Homo sapiens: one gene and its partner. The protein of the gene in region 1 purifies or fractionates together with the protein of each later gene. This does not show direct contact. Each region holds a gene or a part of one and is shown in the gene's direction. Other genes may lie near its edges. The genes, in order: GBP2 and RNPEP.

Evidence for each region.
Region 2: the proteins of GBP2 (region 1) and RNPEP fractionate together in Homo sapiens (co-fractionation; one large-scale study listed by BioGRID). This does not show direct contact.

The regions. Positions count from the first base shown.
Region 1 is NC_000001.11:89,105,355-89,109,160, reverse strand, and holds the end of GBP2 (guanylate-binding protein 2), read left to right. Parts: intron 1-869; coding exon 870-986; 3' UTR 987-3,029; downstream 3,030-3,806.
Region 2 is NC_000001.11:201,988,891-201,992,713, forward strand, and holds part of RNPEP (aminopeptidase B), read left to right. Parts: intron 1-13; coding exon 14-154; intron 155-492; coding exon 493-641; intron 642-3,823. UniProt on the Homo sapiens protein: Exopeptidase which selectively removes arginine and/or lysine residues from the N-terminus of several peptide substrates including Arg(0)-Leu-enkephalin, Arg(0)-Met-enkephalin and Arg(-1)-Lys(0)-somatostatin-14.

The DNA.
Region 1 (3,806 bases):
CACTTTGGGAGGCCGACGGGGGCGGATCACCTCAGGTCGGGAGTTCAAGACCAGCCTGACCAACATGGAGAAACCCCGTCTCTATCAAAAATACAAAATTAGCTGGGCATAGTGACGCATGCCTGTAATCCCAGCTATGCAGGAGGCTGAGGCAGGAGAATCGCTTGAACCTGGGAGGCGGGGGTTGCAGTGAGCCAAGATGGCGCCATTGCACTCCAGCCTGGGCAACAAGAGTCAAATTCCATCTCAAAAAAAAAAAAAGAAAGATTCCCTAACCATCTACCCACTTAAGCACACTGGTTAAGTGCCCATGGTGCCAATACTTTCTTGTTCTCTGGGCTCTTTTCCACATTTACGTTTGCCCAGAAATAGCCTATGGGCCACTGTAAGCCCTGATCTCCTCAATTTATTTCTGTTACCTCCGAATTTTGGAGACCTGTACTAAATTCCCTGATCAAACACTTGCCCTAGTCTTGAGTTATATAGTAACCTACCAATTGGAAATCATCTATCTTTCATACCTTCCTAGATATATATTTAAGAGTCCATTCTATATAGATCAGAAATGAACAACAACAACAAAAAGAACAAGAGAAAGTTATGGTTTTTCCAGAAAGACTGTGTTGCATGAGTGCAAATGGTGAAGGGACCAAGGAATAAAACGCTGGGTCACTAATATTTTAGAAACTGTAGAACAACAACATTTTTGAAGCTAAAAAAATCATAGAAAAATTATTGGCAGGTATAGGAGACTCAGAAGAGAGTGATAGTCAAAAATTCTTGAAGGATCAATATAAGTACCAAAAGGGGAACTAATCTGGTGGAAATGTGTTAAGCTGGATAGGCTTAGTCTCCACTTTCCCTTTTAGGAACAGGAACGCCTTCTCAAGGAGGGATTCGAGAATGAGAGCAAGAGACTTCAAAAAGACATATGGGATATCCAGATGAGAAGCAAATCATTGGAGCCAATATGTAACATACTCTAAAAGTCCAAGGAGCAAAATTTGCCTGTCCAGCTCCCTCTCCCCAAGAAACAACATGAATGAGCAACTTCAGAGTGTCAAACAACTGCCATTAAACTTAACTCAAAATCATGATGCATGCATTTTTGTTGAACCATAAAGTTTGCAAAGTAAAGGTTAAGTATGAGGTCAATGTTTTACCTACAGAGCAATTCAACTCATGCTTATTTATAGTACTAACTTTTAATATGATCTTTAACTAAATCCTATATTTGAAATCATACACAAGGACTCAAGAGAGATATTGTGTAACTAGGATGCATTTTCCAATGAGATATCTTGCAGTTTCTGTTCTGGGTAGATTTTTTTCTCTCATATGCACCACCCTTACTGTATATTCAGTCCTATACTCTTATTCAGGGATTTAACTATGGTCGTAGCATAGGGCTGAAGTGTTGTGAATATGATGAAAATGTGATGAGACCAAACAAACCATGGGGCACAGTAGAGCATCACTCCTGCCAAGTGGTCTTTGTATGGCATGCTGGCTGCAAATAAAGGAGATCTGGGACACTTAACTAGGCTTTTAAAGTACAGACAGTGCACAGTTCTCATTTGGGTGGAGGCTGCATGATCTGTGGGCACTAGCAGAGAAAGTGGTTGCCTCTGTGCAGAATGCATTTATGAGTAGAGGCTCCACCTTCTCTGTCCATGTAAACCCTCTAGGTAATTACTGCCCCATTCCCAGGCCACCTAGATCTCTCTTCTCTAGTCTCCCTTAGTCTTTTCTCTTTCCTGAAGTTTAGAAAATAACTTCTACAATCACAGAAAGGAAAGCTTTAACTCAAACTCAAATTACTTTCCATTCTTCTGAGGACCAGGACTATAATCCTATAAAGCCTAAAACTTGACTGCATTTTTCTCTCTGCTCCTCTGCTATGACATTATATCCTCAAAGCTACTCAGGGTAAATGACTTACTAAAAAAAAAAAAATGACAGATTGAAAAATCAAGAATAATTCATTAATACAAAACATTATCCTACTACAATTGTTTCAGGATGTGTATTATTCAGAGTTCTTCATGGCAAATAACAATCTGCTCAGCAATTTAAGTAAAAAGTAATTTACTTTTTAATACCATTAGGTTGCACACCGATGCTCCAGAATTGTGAGGGAGCCATACTCTACAGCTATTCCACCGAGGATAATACTACCATTGTAAAGGCATCTCACGGGAAAACAACACAGCTACCATGAACCAGCACCATGATCTCTGGATGAAATGCTGGAAGCTTCTGCAGTGTCAGCTATGAGTAAATGGATGCCACCACCTTCACATTTTCAGTAAACAAATACTCCCCTACCCCATGAAAAGTTGCATCTTTGAGCTGCTCACATCTCCAGCTAAGCCTCACAAAAGTCAATCTGCAGGGAAGAATCTAAATCATATGCCTACCCATGGGAAAGTCTGAGAATTAGAGTATTTTTGTCTTCTACTTTTGGAGGAAGAAACTAATAACGTGGGAAATTTTCCTGTATGTTTAGTCAACCAGTTTTTCCATGCAGATGTATGGAGATAAATCTTATAGTAGGAATAACCTAAGACTTGAGTTAGTATTTTTGTGTACATCAGATACAACACTCTTCTCATCTTTTTTGTCATTATTTTTCAATGTTGTTTTAATCTTTCCACTGTTGTTTCATGTCATGCACTTTGTTAATATTCTTTAAGTTATTCTTAGTTTTTAACAATGATACTTAAGAAAGACTTAATAGGACTATAGAATAGGTACTCCCTATTCCCCAACCCTGGGAACACAATTTAACATATTAGTTCATTTGTATTTAAGATCTATCTTGTTTATGCCTCAGTTTAGTTATTGCTCTTACCTTTCAAACAGTTAGTATTTTGTATCTAGTTCTGTGAAAGCAAAAAGCAACTTTATTCTTTCTTACAATTCCCCTTTTACTTAATCGGAACATTTCTTTCCTGTTTGTTCATTAGTCACTCTCAGATAAATGAATAGTCTCTTTTTCTAAAAAAAAAAATAACATTTGACCTAAATTTTTAAATGTCTGAGTTTTGATTTAAAGTTCCTCCCCTTGTATCTTGCTCCCCCTCAGATTCCACTCAGTCACACAGCCCAGGCCTGATTCAGCCTTACAGGCACACAGTGAGAAAGGTGTACGACTTTTTATTTTCATTTCCAGCTCTCCCTCCCACTGGGTACACTAGCTCATGTTGATGATACCTTCAAGTTGTTAACACTAGAGTGCAGGGAATTAAGGAAAAGAAACCTTACATGATACATAACTGATCTGGTGTTGGCACCTTCTGGTGGTGGCTTAAGTCCTTAAGGATGATTTGGGTTCTTTGCTGATCCCCCTTGCCAGGACCTCCCAATAGCACGTCCCTATTGTAGTCCACTTCTGATTCCTTTCCTCAAATTCTCTCTTCTAGAGATCCACTCATTCAATATATTCTTGGTGTTGAGATCAATGCCTCTTGACATGTTGACATCTTGTGCAGGATTTCCTTCAATATGACCCAAGTCCAGAACACCCCAGTGATTATACCCATGAGAAAAACTCATGCGCACCAGTTTAGCCATACACCGTAGGAACAGGATTCCCCCAACTCTCTTTTCTTTCCTATTTTGCCACAAACCATTCCATCCCAGACTATCACTTTTAGATGTTTTTAGGCATAAGTTGGGCACCAGTACTAGTGTCCCCAAACCCCAAAGAGCACATATCAGCTTTTCAAGAGGATCTTTTAAGTGCCCAATGCTACTTAGTTTGTAAAGATAGTAAGAAAGAAGCACCTCTCATTGCCCTATGG
Region 2 (3,823 bases), about 110 Mb from region 1:
TCTTTTCGCTTAGGTTTGCTGGTTGGCTCCCGAGCAGACAGCAGGAAAGAAGAAGCCCTTCGTGTACACCCAGGGCCAGGCTGTCCTAAACCGGGCCTTCTTCCCTTGCTTCGACACGCCTGCTGTTAAATACAAGTATTCAGCTCTTATTGAGGTAAGGAGACTAAGGTTAGGTGCACCTGCCCTTGGGATGAAGAAATGATTTCAGATCTATCAATCAGGTCACGTTTCAGTGGTAAATTATTATATCCATTCAGTGGTACTTCTGAAAAATTGCTTACTTTTAAATTCTTCCACCTACTGAAGTTGTATGTAGCCTTCCTCTAAATCCCATCAGTTGAGCACAGATTTAGTTTCTTGAAACCTTTGTGTTCTCCAAGATAGACTCCAGGCCATTATCATCACACACAGGTGGCCGGTCATGCTCTTATTCAAACTAATCAAAAGGAAACTCTCTCCAGGTAAAATCTCCTAAGCTTTCTCTGTTGTCAGGTCCCAGATGGCTTCACAGCTGTGATGAGTGCTAGCACCTGGGAGAAGAGAGGTCCAAATAAGTTCTTCTTCCAGATGTGTCAGCCCATCCCCTCCTATCTGATAGCTTTGGCCATCGGAGATCTGGTTTCGGCTGAAGTTGGACCCAGGTAGGAGACAAAGACCCCACAGGCAAGGTTGGATTGGCCTCAGAGGTGAGGAGGACTCTGACCAGTGGACCTGCTGGGGGGGTTCTTGGGCAGTCTTGGATCCTCTGTCTGAGTCCAGAGCCTTTCTGCAGCTCATGCAGCATGAGCACAGCTGGAGGAAGTGCTCTTTTTCTCCCTGCCTTTCTCACTCCCTCTCTCCAGTTCTAATCCTGCTGCCTGGAATGAGATCATCATCCCTGCTAGCAGTAGCGCTGTCCTGGGCTGCCTTACAGAGGGATGTTGGAATTTAGGCTGCAGTTTTGGGAAATGGATTTTTTTTTTTTTTTGAGATGGAGTCTTGCTGTGTTGCCCAGGCTGGACTGGAGTGCAATGGTGCGATCTTGGCTCACTGCAACCTCTGCCTCCTGGGTTCAAGCGATTCTCCTGCCCCAGCCTCCCAAGTAACTGGGACTGCAGGCATGCCCCACCACGCTCGGCTAATTTTTGTATTTTTCGTAGAGACGGGGTTTCACCATGTTGGCCAGGCTGCTCTTGAACTCCTGACCTCAGGTGATTCACCCGCCTTGGCCTCCCAAAGTGCTGGGATTACAGGCATGAGCCATCATGCCCGGCCTGGGAAATGGATCTTTATTAATATCTTTAAGTTCTAAATGCCCTTCTAGCAGCTATATCCACTTTCCTATCTTTGTACCAAATCTTCCCCATTTTCTTTTGCACGTAGTTCCTGGAAATAACAACTTTGGTATCATTTCCCTCGAAGAGGGAAGTGGACTCTCCTTCCTATCTGCAGCAGATGCATGAGTCTAAGCCTACGGTGAGAGCAATGCCTCCGTGAAGTTACATGGATCTTGTGAAGATAAAAAGGGATTTTGTAAGGTTTCCTGATAAAAGAGGTTTGACCAGGAGTATAGGTTTTTCCTGGCTCTCATATTACCTCCACCATAGCTTAGTCCCAATGTGGGAGCATCACAGGCTGGACGGTGAAGCCGTGACCTTTTCCTGGCACTGTTGCTGTTCTTTATCTCTGGCCCTGCTCCCAGTTCCTAGAGGCAGTGGTGTCCTTGACAACATTAGTTACGAGCCTCAGACTTCATAACTGGGCTCAGTGGCACTGCTGGTATCATGAGTCTTAGTTTCTGGTTATCAGTTGGAATAATAAATGGGATTCCATTGGCATCTGCTCCCAGCGCACACATTCAAAACAATACCAGTCTGGAAAGACAAAGTGCCCTCCTCTTACGAAGGGCTGTCTTCCTAATAGGCAGGGCGGGAAATAACCAAAAGGATGTCATCTTTGCAATAGACAAGCAAGTAGATAAGTAAAGGAACGTCGTTTCCAAGAATACCCTTACTAAGGTTCTACTTGTAAGAGTATGAACTATTAATGGGAAATGAGAGAACAATAGATTCTAAAGATACTGAGTGATAATGATTTCTTTTTATACTGCCTGTAATAAAATGACAACATGGTATATCGAACTAGGTGACAGAATCCACTTAACTGGTGGTAATGCCTTATTCCTTCCGTGATTAAATGGACAGTTCTTGCCTCCTGGGTCACATCGTAGGGTCTTGTGGGGGGTTATTTATTTATTATTTTTGAGATGGCGTCTTGCTCTGTTGCCCAGGCTGGAGTGCAGTGGCGCGATCTTGGCTCACCACAACCTCCGCCTCCTGGGTTCAAGTGATTCTCCTGCCTCAGCCTCCCAAGTAGCTGGGACTACAGGTGTGTGCCACCATTTCTGGCTAATTTTCATATTTTTAATAGAGACAGGGTTTCACTATGTTGGCCAGGCTAGTCTTGAACTCCTGACCTCGTGATCCATCCACCTCGGCCTCCCAAAGTGCTCGATTACAGGCATGAGCCACCACGCCGGGCCGTGGGGGTTTATTAAATCGGAGGGTCTTCTGGCAAGGTATGCCACCTATCCCAGTCCCTGTTACTGCAAGAGGAAAATCCTGGGCAGAGGGGAATTATGGGTATATCCCAGTAGGCCCTTTTATGTATAATCTCTTCTAATCCTTACACAGACTCCATGAGGATGATACTTTCTACATTTTAAAAATAAGCAAACCAAGGCTGTGGTGAGTGGCTTGTGCAGGACCACTAGTTGGCAAAACTGGAATTAAAATTCAGGTATTTCCATTGCAAATCCAGTGCTCTTTGCAATATACTACAGGTAGTGAGATTGCAGCTTGACTGAGAGCATCCTGATTTATTTTGACAGAAATGTGTGTCCTGGTGGAGGTATCTTGGATGACTGTCTTAAACCTTCTAGTTGTAACAAGCTGAAGTCCACTGGGCTGAAGGACTGTGGTAATTTTGACATCCAAGGTGGTGGTAGAACAATTCACAAAGTAATTCCTTGAAGATACTGACTGCCGTCCCATGATCTTTTTCTGTCTGGTTTCCTGTCACATCATCTTTGGCGACTTTTCTCTCCTAACACCCAGGGTTGAGGGTGGCTGCAGGGTTTCTTGTGCCTTTCTCCCTCCCTCCCTCCCTCCCTCTTTCTTTCTTTTCTTGCCTCGCTCTCTTGCCCAGGCTGGAATGCAGTGGCACAATAACAGCCCATTGAACCTCAAGCTACCAGGCTCAAGCAGTCCTCCCACTTCAGTCTCCAGAGTAGCTGGGACCACAGCTACTCTGTCACCATGCCCAGTTAATTTTATTTATTTTCTGCAGGAGCAAGGTCTTGCTATGTTGTCCAGGCTGATCTTGAACTCCTGGGCTCAAGAGATCCTCCCACCTCGGCCTCCCAAAGTGTTGGGATTGCAGGCATGAGCCACAACACCAACCTTCAGGGTTTCTTGACCTCTACTCAGGGAGCCTTCTCCACTCTGTCAGCCACCCATATTCACACCCATGCTCTGGAGTCTAGAGCCTAGACATCGTCATTGTCATGAACTGTACCATATCTGAACTTTTAAGGCCCTTGAGCCCCTTGTCCTCATTCATCCTGACTCTGCTAACCTTCCAGCTCTCTGACGGCCTCTCTCCCACTATATTCCACCATGTCTCCTCCTTGAGCTCATGGCAGCCTCCCTTCCGGCAAGCCACTCATTTCTCCTGGGCAGTCAAGACCCTCCTGACTGGGCTTCCCTCCCTGGCCCAAGTGTGTGGTTGGTTACCTCTTACCAACACCCCAAAGCCCCTTGCCCACTTCCCGCTGCTATAATGT